Regions from separate parts of the Homo sapiens genome. Here all the other regions are linked to region 4. The links come from fine-mapping of genetic effects on gene expression. A gene starts in region 4. Each other region holds a variant in brackets. All regions are shown on one strand. Distances are from middle to middle. Region 1 overlaps BMPR2 (bone morphogenetic protein receptor type 2). Region 2 overlaps BMPR2 (bone morphogenetic protein receptor type 2). Region 3 overlaps BMPR2 (bone morphogenetic protein receptor type 2). Region 4 holds the start of BMPR2 (bone morphogenetic protein receptor type 2).

Region 1 (2,686 bases), 140 kb before region 4:
CCTTGGTTGCATATCTTCCTAGCCTACACATCCATAAATACCCTGTACAACACCAGGCTCATACTGTCCCCACAGGCATTTTCTCACATCCTAACAGCTGCAGAGTACAGTATATGACAAGGTAGGAAATACAAACAGATTCCCCATTCACAAGGTAGGGAAACTCTTCAATTAGTGTTCCAGTTCACATTTGCTTTTTTTTTTTTTCTGAGACAGTCTAGCTGTCAGCCAGGCTGGAATACAGTGGTGTGATTTCAGCTAACTAGAACCTTCACCTCCCAGGCTCAAACAATCCTCCCAGCTCAGCCTCCCAAGTAGCTGCGACTACAGGTGCATGCCACCACGTCCAGCTAATGTTTATATTTTTTGTAGAGACAGGGTTTCACCATGTTACCCAGGCTGGTCTCAAACTCCCGAGCTCAAGCAATCCACCTGCCTTGGTCTCCCAAAGTGTCAGAGTTACAGGCATGAGCCATCAATCACGCCCGGGCTGCCAATATTCCAACTGAAGTAGCAGGTTGTTTTTACTAATGATTTTATGAAACTCTCTTGCAAACAAGTACATCATAGACAAATTATGTCTGCACAACTTTTAGAGTTGTTTAAAGTAACCTAATAGAAAGACAGTGACTAAGATTCATTCCTTATCTCCAGCTTTGTAAGTCCCAGGCTGCCTAGAGCACCTGGACTGCTGCCCCTGGGTCCCCTACATCCCCATGGCAACAATGGAGGAAGAGCAGGCCAGGACAAGCATGAGGAATAAACAGTCTTTATTGGACTCAGACTAGGAGTCTGTGGGCCTTGAGGACCTTCGTGTATTTGTCAATGTTCTTCTCTATGTTCTTTTCAGCCTTTTCCTATAGCCTCATGAGCTGTTTTTCTTCTGGTAACAGATCTTCTGATAATAGACCTTCCTCTTCTCCCCCATGGTGGCTGTCATTGCCTGGTATTTCCAGTCAACCTTCTGAGCCCAGTGCCCCAGGTAGGCAAACTTTCTTCAAGGCTTCGGACGTACAACCTCGAGGGTGGCAGAAACCGCCATCTGCTTTTTCTTGTCATATGGCAGGGGGATTCTATCAAACACCTTGAGGTGATCTAGGGCAGCCTAGCCTTGCTTGGTCTTGTGGGGCAGCCTACCGCAGGTGGTCTGCCAAAAGATGTGGCTGGGGACCCATAAATGGTAGGGTCCTTGGGAAGGGTTGGTGCTTGTCCGCTTGCAGAGGAAGGCTAGATACTTTAACTTGTTTCTGTAGAAACTGCCAGAAATGTTGATGTCCTCACAGGACATGACCACTACTTTCTCTGCTGGGTCATGATAGCCTCCAGGTAGCCCAGGAGTTTTACTCAGCTATCAAGCACCAGGACTGCCCCTCTGCCATCTTGGCAGCTGCGTGGGAAAGCTCTTTCTGTTACATTTCAAATGCATTTCATGCTGAATCTTTCAAACAACTGACTAATAATAAATCTCCAATAATATAAATTATACTTTTACTTTGAAGATATAATTAAAATTTCCTGTTGTGAATTTTGAACCCACATGAGTGTCAATTTCATCTATTGACTATCTTACCTCCTCGTGGTAATTCTGTGTGAAGATAAGCCAGTCCTCTAGTAACAGAATGAGCAAGACGGCAAGAGCTTACCCAGTCACTTGTGTGGAGACTTAAATACTTGCATAAAGATCCCTATATAGAGGAAAAAATGCGAAAAAAAAAAAA[G/AG]GTAGAATTAACTCACTTTAACATGAAGAGTAAATTAGCATCCTTATAAAGAATTTGCAAATAGGCTAGGATTCCATGAAGATCTAATGAACTACTACATTTCAGAATCTTGAAAGAGTTAGTATGACATTTCTGTGTGTAGAGAGGAGAGGAAGGGATGGAAAGGGGAATTTAAACATTATAAATTTTTATGTCTCTAATATTAAAAATTATGAATGATTATTTCCTTTTAAACAATTCTTTGATCAAATTAAGATAGAAAAGTGTATCATTCACCAGTATGAATACAAATTATATTGTTATGGTTAATAAGTAGAAAACAAAAGGATTTTGTAAATATATTCATTTATGTATTGGTGCCACTCAAAGTGCTTATCTACAAACTATTACCAGTTGCTGATGAGAAAAGAATGTTGCATCAGAATGAATGTCAATCAAAGTACTGCTTCTTTCATCAAAAAACTTGTTATCAAAAAATTAAATAAAGAAGAGAAAAACAGAAAGAAGGAGGAGACAGCGAAACAAACAGTATAATTAGTTGATTCACATTCTGGTGTGAGATCCTTATTTCATTGCAGACCATTAATAATCCAGTTTGTGAGTCAGCAATGCTCTATCTGTAATACAGTGGTCCTCTCTGAAGTCTGATTAACAACTAATATAAATGTCAGTTTATTTTTTTTTATTTTTTGAGATTGCGTCTTGCTCTGTCGCCCAGGCTGGAGTACGGCTGTACAATCTCGGCTCCCTGCAACCTCCGCCTACCGGGTTCAAGCAATTCTCATGCCTCAGCCTCCCAAGTAGCTGGAATTACAGATGTGTGCCATCATACCCGGCTAATTTTTGTATTTTTAGTAGAGACGGGAGTTTTGCCATGTTGGCGAGGCTGGTCCTGAACTCTTGGCCTCAAGTGATCCACCTGCCTTAGCCTCCAAAAGTGCTGGGATTACAGGCATAAGCCACCACAC
Region 2 (2,686 bases), 130 kb before region 4:
ATTAGAAGCTTCTATGGCAAAGTAGGATGCCTCTACGGCAAAGAGTTCCTCTAATGGGCATTCCTGTTTTAATGAATTTATTTGTCTCAATCAAATTAAGTAGAAGTTGCTTATTAAAATGTCTAAACTATATTTCTATAGAAGGATATGTTGAAACAACACTGAAATACTCTTAATTTGCAGACCATTTATTATATTTTCTTTTTTCTTTCTTTCTTTTTTTTTTTTTAAGAGAGTCTTGCTCTGTCGCCCAGGCTGGAGCTCAGTGGTGCAATCTCAGCTCACTGCAAACTCCACATCCCAGACTCAAGCAATTCTTGTGCCTCAGCCTCCTGAGTTGCTGGGATTATAGGTTTGTAGCACCACACCTGGATAATTTTTTGTATTTTTAGTAGAGATGGGGTTTCACCATGTTAACCAGATCGGTCTTGAACTCCTGGCCTCAAGTTGATGTGCCCACTTTGGCCTCCCAAAGTGCTGGGATTACAGGTGTGAGTCACTGTGCCCAGCCCATTTTTCAGATATTAATAGATTTTAACACATTGATCATTGTGCCTCCTTTTAACATACAGAGTAAGTTACAGGCAGAAAAGCTACATATAAAACTCATTTTACCACAGTGAGATATTATTTCACATACATTGGCATGGCTACAATTAAAAAAAAAGAAAATAAAAAGCGCTGGCAAGGATGTGGATAAATTATAACTCTTGTACATTGCAAGTGGGATATGAAATGGTAAGTATACAGTAGAAAACAGTTTGTGAGTTCCTCAAAAAGTTAAACATGGAATTACCATAAGACCCAGCAATTCCAATCCTAGGCATATATCAGAAAGAACCAAAAACAAGTGTTCAAACAAAAACTTCTACATGCATGTTCACAGCATCACTATTTACAACACCCGAAAGTGGAAACAACACAAATGTTCATGAACTGATGAATGGATAAACAAAATGTGGTATATTCCTACAAAGGATTTACAAAAGGTTGAATATTCTATGATTCCATTGAAATGAAATACTCAGAATAGGCCAAATTCATAGACAGAAAGCAGGTTAGTAGTTGCCAGGGACTGGGAGAGGAAGAAATAGGGAGTGACTGCTTATTAGATACAGGGTTTCCCTTGTGGGGTGATGAAAATGTTTTGGAACTAGACAGAGGTAATAGTTGCACAACACTATGAATGTGTTGAGTGGTACATTTTAATATGACTAATTCTAAGTTATGTGAATTTTACTTCAATCAAAAAAAAAAAAAAAAA[AC/C]TAAAGCCAGGTGCGGTGGCTCACTCCTGTCATCCCAACACGTTGGGAGGCTGAGGCAGACGGATCACAAGGTCAGGGGTTTGAGACCAGCCTGACCAACATGGTGAAACCACAGCTCTACTAAAAAGACAAAAATTAGCTGGGCATGGTGGCGCTTGCCTGTAATCCCAGCTACTCAGGAGGCTCAGGCAGGAGAATCACTTGAACCCAGGAGGCAGAGATTGTAGTGAGCCAAGATCATGCCATTGCACTCCAGCCTGGGTGAGAAAGCAAGACTCCGTCTCAAAAGCAAACAAACAAATAAACAAAAAAAAACAAAAAAAACCTCATTTTAGAATTTGCTAAACCTAAAAGATAAACTATTTTCAATACATACACATACACACACACAAAACTAAATAATTTATAGATTCATGACTATACAAGGATATTTTATGTGCCTATAGTTTTTCCTTTCCAGAAAGTCATATAGTTGGAATGATACAATATACAGACTTTTCAGACTGCCTTCTTTCACTTAGCAATATGTACTTTAGGTTCCTCCATGTCTTTTTGTGGCTTAGCAGTTCATTTCCTTTTATCACTGAATATTATCCATGTCACAGATGTACGATCTCAGCTCACTGCAACCTCCGCCACCTGGGTTCAAGTGATTTTTCTGCCTCAGACTCCTAAGTAGCGGGATTACAGGCACGCGCCACCACACCCAGCTAATTTTTGTATTTTTTAGTACAGACAGGGTTTCACCATGTTGGTCAGGCTGGTCTCGAACTCCTGACCTCGTGATCTGCCCACCTTGGCCTCCCAAAGTGCTGGGATTATAGGCATAAGCCACCGCGCCCAGCCAAAAACTGGTATTTCTTTAAATATTTGTTACAATAAAAAAATTCGTAGTCTAACGTGAAACAAAGTTTTGCCACATCCAAATGAGAAACACTGAATATTTAAATGTGTTCTTACATTCTTGTGTAATTCAAGTAAATATGAGTTAATAAAGATTATCTTGTCTTCTGTATAAAAAATAAAATTAAATATTAAATGTAATATTAATATGGCATTACAGATAAAACTGTCTCTGGAAATGAGTTAAGATATCCAATGTTATAATTCCCAAAAGAACTGAACCATATTACTTATTTGAAAAATGTATTTTGAATTCAACTAGGAATGAGAAGTGATAAGGAATCTAATTTTATTTTTTAAAAATCTAATTTTTAATTCTTAAATATGTGGACATGTTTAAATTTCAGTATTGAAAATTTAGATTAATGTTATTTAAAGGACATTACCAATTAAATAAAATATTAAAATTTTAATGTAACAAAGGTTAGATTTTGGAAAAACCTGAAAAACCAAAAGTTGTACATAAAAAGCACAGAATTAGTACATTTGAAAATTTAATAATAAAGATTTTTCCACTA
Region 3 (2,661 bases), 160 kb before region 4:
TGCCCCGCCGCCCCGTCTGGGATGTGAGGAGCGCCTCTGCCCAGCCGAGACCCCGTCTGGGAGGTGAGGAGCGTCTCTGCCCGGCCGCCCCGTCTGAGAAGTGAGGAGACCCTCTGCCTGGCAACCGCCCCGTCTGAGAAGTGAGGAGCCCCTCCGCCCGGCAGCCGCCCCGTCTGAGAAGTGAGGAGCCTCTCCGCCCAGCAGCCGCTCCGTCTGGGAAGTGAGGAGTGTCTCCGCCCGGCAGCCACCCCGTCCGGGAGGGAGGTGGGGGGGGTCAGCCCCCCGCCAGGCCAGCCGCCCCATCCGGGAGGGAGGTGGGGGGGTCAGCCCCCCGCCCGGCCAGCCGCCCCGTCCGGGAGGGAGGTGGGGGGGTCAGCCCCCAGCCAGGCCAGCCGACCTGTCCGGGAGGGAGGTGGGGGGGTCAGCCACCCGCCCGGCCAGCCGACCCGTCCGGGAGGGAGGTGGCAGGGGGTCAGCCACCCGCCCGGCCAGGAGGTGGGGGGGGTCAGCCCCCCGCCCGGCCAGCCGCCCCGTCCGGGAGGGAGGTGGGGGGGTCAGCCCCCCGCCCGGCCAGCCGCCCCGTCCGGGAGGGAGGTGGGGGGGTCAGCCCCCCGCCTGGCCAGCCGCCCCGTCCGGGAGGTGAGGAGCCTCTCTGCCCGGCCACCACCCCGTCTGGGAGGTGTGCCCAACAGCTCATTGAGAACGGGCCAGGATGACAATGGCGGCTTTGTGGAATAGAAAGGCGGGAAAGGTGGGGAAAAGATTGAGAAATCAGATGGTTGCCGTGTCTGTGTAGAAAGAAGTAGACATGGGAGACTTTCCATTTTGTTCTGTACTAAGAAAACTTCTTCTGCCTTGGGATCCTGTTGATCTGTGACCTTGCCCCCAACCCTGTGCTCTCTGAAACATGTGCTGTGTCCCACTCAGGGTTAAATGGATTAAGGGCGGTGCAAGATGTGCTTTGTTAAACAGATGCTTGAAGGCAGCATGCTCGTTAAGAGTCATCACCACTCCCTAATCTCAAGTACCCAGGGACACAAACACTGCGGAAGGCCGCAGGGTCCTCTGCCTAGGAAAACCAGAGACCTTTGTTCACTTGTTTATCTGCTGACCTTCCCTCCACTATTGTCCTATGACCCAGCCAAATCCCCCTCTGTGAGAAACACCCAAGAATTATCAATAAAAAATAAATAAATAAATAAATAAATAAATAAAAATTTTATTTATATATATATATA[C/T]ACACACACACGATACATATATATGTGTGTGTGTGTGTATATATATATACACACACTTGATATATATAAACTAATGTGTAATGCCTAATGTCTTTAAAGCCAAACAATTCAACTCCATTATTAATCTTTTTAAATTAAATAGCTCTATTTCATAAATTTGTCCAATGCTAGTTCCTTTTTCTATGCTTTTAATGGTGTTACTCCTAAAAGACAGTGGCCACACAGATCAAATCATCTGTATAGCACCTAGAAGAATGCAATGCCAGATTTATAGTTAAAGTTTTTAGATGATACTACAACGATGTAATCCCTAAGAAGGGAAAACTATAAATTCATTTGGCTATTTCAAGTAAGCCTCAAACAAACATTCACTTAAATGAGTATTCTTTCCCTTTTTTTGAGACGGAGTCTTGCTCTGTTACCCAGGCTGGAGAGCCATGGCGTGATCTCAGCTCACTGCAACCTCCGCCTACTGGGTTCAAGCAATTCCTCTGCCCCAGCCTCCCGAGTAGCTGGGACTACAGGTGCTCGCCACCACGCCTGGCTAATTTTTGTATTATTAGTAGACATGGGGTTTCACCATATTGGCCAGGCTGGTCTCGAACTTCTGACCTCATGATCCGCCTGCCTTGGCCTCCCAAAGTGCTGGGATTACAGGTGTAAGCCACCGCGCCAGGCCTTTTTTTATTTTTTTGAGACAGAGTTTTGCTCTTGTTGCCCAGGCTGGGGTGCAACGGCAAGATCTTGGCTCACTGCAACCTCTGCCTCCCGGGTTCAAGCAATTCTCCTATCTCAGCCTCCTGAGCAGCTGGGATTACAGGTGCATATTATTAGTAGAAACGGGGTTTCACCATATTGGTCAGGTTGGTCTCGAACTCCTGACCTCAGGTGATCCGCAAGCCTCGGCCTCACAAAGTGCTGGGATTATAGGCATGAGCCACCGCACCTGGCCAATGAGTATTCTTTCATTGAAAGGAAGGAAGAAGAGAAAAGAGGAGGAAGGGAAGGAGATAAGGTGAGAGAAGAGGAAGGAAGGAAGAAAGAAGGAAAGAAGGAAGGAGGGAGAAAGGGAGCATGAAAAAAAAAGAAAAGGAAAAAGTGTTTACAAATAATTCATTGCTTCTAATTCCTTCTGGGTTCAACTCAGTAAACATCGTAAGTGTACCTTGTCTCAAACACTCAGATGGTGCATAAGGAAAATGTTTACTGCTAAAGCAATCAGAGACCAAACAAAATACAGTTAGATAAGCTATTACTGGCAATTAATTAAATTTCACTCAGATGAAAACCTGGAGTACTCTAAAAAAAAAAATTCCTAATTTGCATCCTGCTGCTAATAATGTTTCTAAACACTAGATAGCAATGAACTAAAGGTTTAAATGAAAGTAAAAAGATTCTTACATAAAAGTTGAGTTAGGTACTA
Region 4 (2,677 bases):
CGCAGCTCCGCTGCACCGCGATCGGGGGGACGCATGGCGAAGGGCAAGCACAGGCCTCGGCCTCTGCGGGCTCCCTCCCTCGCCACCCGCAGGGGCAGTGGCCGGGACGTGCCGGCCGGAGCTACTCACCAGCCGCAGTGCTGACCAGCAGGATGGTCCATGGTAGCCAGGGCACCCGCCAGGGCCGCTGCAGCGAGGAAGTCATCCCTGGGCCAGCCAAGAATCAGGAGGGCAAAGAAAAGAAATATGGGAAGTAGACCGGCGGAGAAACAGCCGGGAGGCTCGTCTTCTCTCCCGTGGACTGATCCTGCCCGTATCACAATACAGTTTGAAAGGACAAATGGCTGATGAGAGGACCTAGCTGCAGAGCTTTCATGCCGCTGCAGAAATTCCCTTCATTTCTCTCCCTCGCGGCTGGGGGGGTTCCTTCGCCTCGGACGGGGTGCCGCGGCCCTCCAAACGGAAGGCATGTCTGTGGGGAAAGCAGGGAGCCAAGAAGAAATCCCCCAAATTATTTCCCTCGTAGTTTCACGATATCAAAAAAATATCCAGGTCTGGGAGAAAACATATCCAGGGTGCGGAGGGCGGGGATTCGATCCGGGGTCGGGGGGCGAGGGTCAGAACTAGTTCCCGACTGCCGGGAAGGACGAAGCCGGACGGGCGGCGGCGGCGCCCGGCAGCCCTAGTCGCATCGCCCGCGGCTCCGGGAAGGCAGGATTCCTTAAGTTTCGCTTCGGTGCTTCCTTCACTCTGATTTCGAAAACAACAAATCCTCTTCCTTGACTGGATCAAAAAAGGTGCCTGCCTCCATGGACAAGCTCACAGTCCCCACGCCTTCGCAGAACAACCGTGAGAGGGTTGGGGAGGCCCTGGCGAAGGCTGAGGAGAGGTAGGAGCGGGGGAGGGGAGGGGTCGCGGTCGCGGCCCCGGTCCGGGCTCCCCGAGACGGCAGGCGGAGTGGGTGTGAGAGGCTGCCCCTTCTAGTCCTCCCGGCGGCGCTCCCTTCCCTTCCTCGCTTTTTATTCCTGCGGCTCGATCTTGCCTGAGGTAAATTCCACCAAGAAAGCCTCCTCTTCTCCCGTCAATGGCTCCTGTGAGCGAATCACAACCCCCCGAGGAAGCCGCTGCTGCTGCCGCCGCCGCCGCCGCCGCCGCCGCCGCCGCCGCCTCGTTCTCCCGCAGCTCTGGGCTCCTGACGGAACTCGGGCGTCGCGGACCGAGGGCGGGGGGCGGCGGGAGGGCGGATGAAGGTAGCCGGGGAAGGGGGTGGGCAGGGAGGCGGCGAGACACCCTGCGTCCCTCCGGGAGGCACTTCCAGTGGCTCCGAGCAGACCAGACACAAAGGGGGGAGTCGCCGCAGCTGCCAGTCTGCGGCGCTCCCGGTCACCGGAGTCGCCCCGCCTCCGCCGCCGCCTCCGCCTCCTCCTCAGTCTCCGGCTCTTCCCGGCCCTGTCTGTCTCTAGCCTGTGGTGCAGAGCGGGCGGCGGCGGCGGCGGCGCCGGCGGCGGGATGAAGCCCGCACTGCGCCTGCGCGCTCACGGCCCCGCCCGGCCCCGCCCCTCGTTCGGGGCTGGCTGAGGGCTCCGAGGCCCCACCGCAGCGCGTCTCTCCGGTGAATGGCCGAGGGCTGGGTGGGGCTGCGGTGGGCAGCGGTGGCCTTTCTCCTTCACACACATACACATGCCTTCCAAATGTGCATGGCTTGGGATTCGCGTATTTGTTTAAGAGACGACGGCCACATCCTTTTGTTCGGCGTTCAGCAGACTCCTCCGAGTTCCGGGATTTCTCCCGACTGAGGCGTCTCCGTCTCAGTACTCTCGGAGGAAAGCCTCGAGGGGCAGAACTGCCCTCTGTTGTTTCACGGGGCTGGAACCTCCCTCTCCGCAGCCCAAAGAATCCGGATGGACCCGCCTTTCCCAGAACCGGAGACCTTGGCCTCCTCAGGCTCCCCTCTGACTCAAACAAAAGCCGGAATTGGAAAGACCACCCCTTTGATGTGTTCGCTGTAATCGACGTCCTGCTTTCCTCAACCGCCCATTCCCTTAGCCTTCTTAGTTGACAGGAATATTGAGTATTTGCAAGGATGCGAAGCCAGAAAAAAAAAAAAGACTTTTAATTCTATAAATCGTCCCGCTGCGTGCGCGCGTCTGTCCGTACAGCGCGGTGCCCACCCCGAGAGAGGGCCTGGATTCACCAAGGCTGGGGGCCTTGAGGGCTTTTTAGGGCACGTGAAAGGAAAATGGAGTTAGAGTTGTGTCGGGATAGAGAGTGGGATCATTTTGCACTCAAGGAATTGAGAAGATCCCGTTGGTACCGCAGTTTCCAAGGATTTGTGTAGTGCGTTTTTTGGATCTGGTTTGTACAAGCGACCAGTATAGGAGACGGGATCCCTCCCGCCCTTACACCCCGCTGCGGGGTCAGCCGACGTGGGTGGGATTTTGCTGGCGGCGAGGGGAGAAGGTGACGTGCGTGGCGCCATGATCGGAAGTCTGGACTGAATTCTTAGCTGCGAGGTGGAAAATGCGCGTGGGAGGGCGATCTTGAGGGGTGAAGTCTGGCCTTCCCATCTCCTACCAGGCAGGAGGGTTATGCTGAAGGCTGGTTTTGCTGGTCTTTCATTGTGGCTAAGGGCAGTTCCACAGATACAGTCATAGATAGACTCCTTAAGTCATGCTCT

The links. PIP is the estimated chance that this variant, and not a neighbour inherited with it, causes the effect.
Region 1: its variant is fine-mapped to the expression of BMPR2 in whole blood (INTERVAL, PIP above 0.99).
Region 2: its variant is fine-mapped to the expression of BMPR2 in whole blood (INTERVAL, PIP above 0.99).
Region 3: its variant is fine-mapped to the expression of BMPR2 in whole blood (INTERVAL, PIP above 0.99).

The regions. Positions count from the first base shown.
Region 1 is chr2:202,519,086-202,521,771 of GRCh38, reverse strand. It overlaps BMPR2 (bone morphogenetic protein receptor type 2), which reads right to left. Exons shown (of 13, transcript NM_001204.7): 7 at 1,571-1,685. It also overlaps the pseudogene RPL13AP12. Among named protein-coding and RNA genes, the nearest start is that of FAM117B, 110 kb to the left of the region's middle. The variant G/AG (reference allele first, on the strand shown) is at 1,719.
Region 2 is chr2:202,509,562-202,512,247 of GRCh38, reverse strand. The region is part of intron 3 of BMPR2 (bone morphogenetic protein receptor type 2); the gene reads right to left. Among named protein-coding and RNA genes, the nearest start is that of FAM117B, 120 kb to the left of the region's middle. The variant AC/C (reference allele first, on the strand shown) is at 1,265.
Region 3 is chr2:202,532,799-202,535,459 of GRCh38, reverse strand. All of the region lies in intron 9 of BMPR2 (bone morphogenetic protein receptor type 2), which reads right to left. Among named protein-coding and RNA genes, the nearest start is that of FAM117B, 100 kb to the left of the region's middle. RefSeq lists an enhancer at 249-1,247. The variant C/T (reference allele first, on the strand shown) is at 1,239.
Region 4 is chr2:202,375,003-202,377,679 of GRCh38, reverse strand. It overlaps BMPR2 (bone morphogenetic protein receptor type 2), which reads right to left and starts at 1,353. Exons shown (of 13, transcript NM_001204.7): 1 at 130-1,353. The coding sequence starts at 205. RefSeq lists enhancers at 1-5, 8-791, 1,946-2,235, 2,346-2,505 and silencers at 846-905, 976-1,035, 1,166-1,655, 1,806-1,855.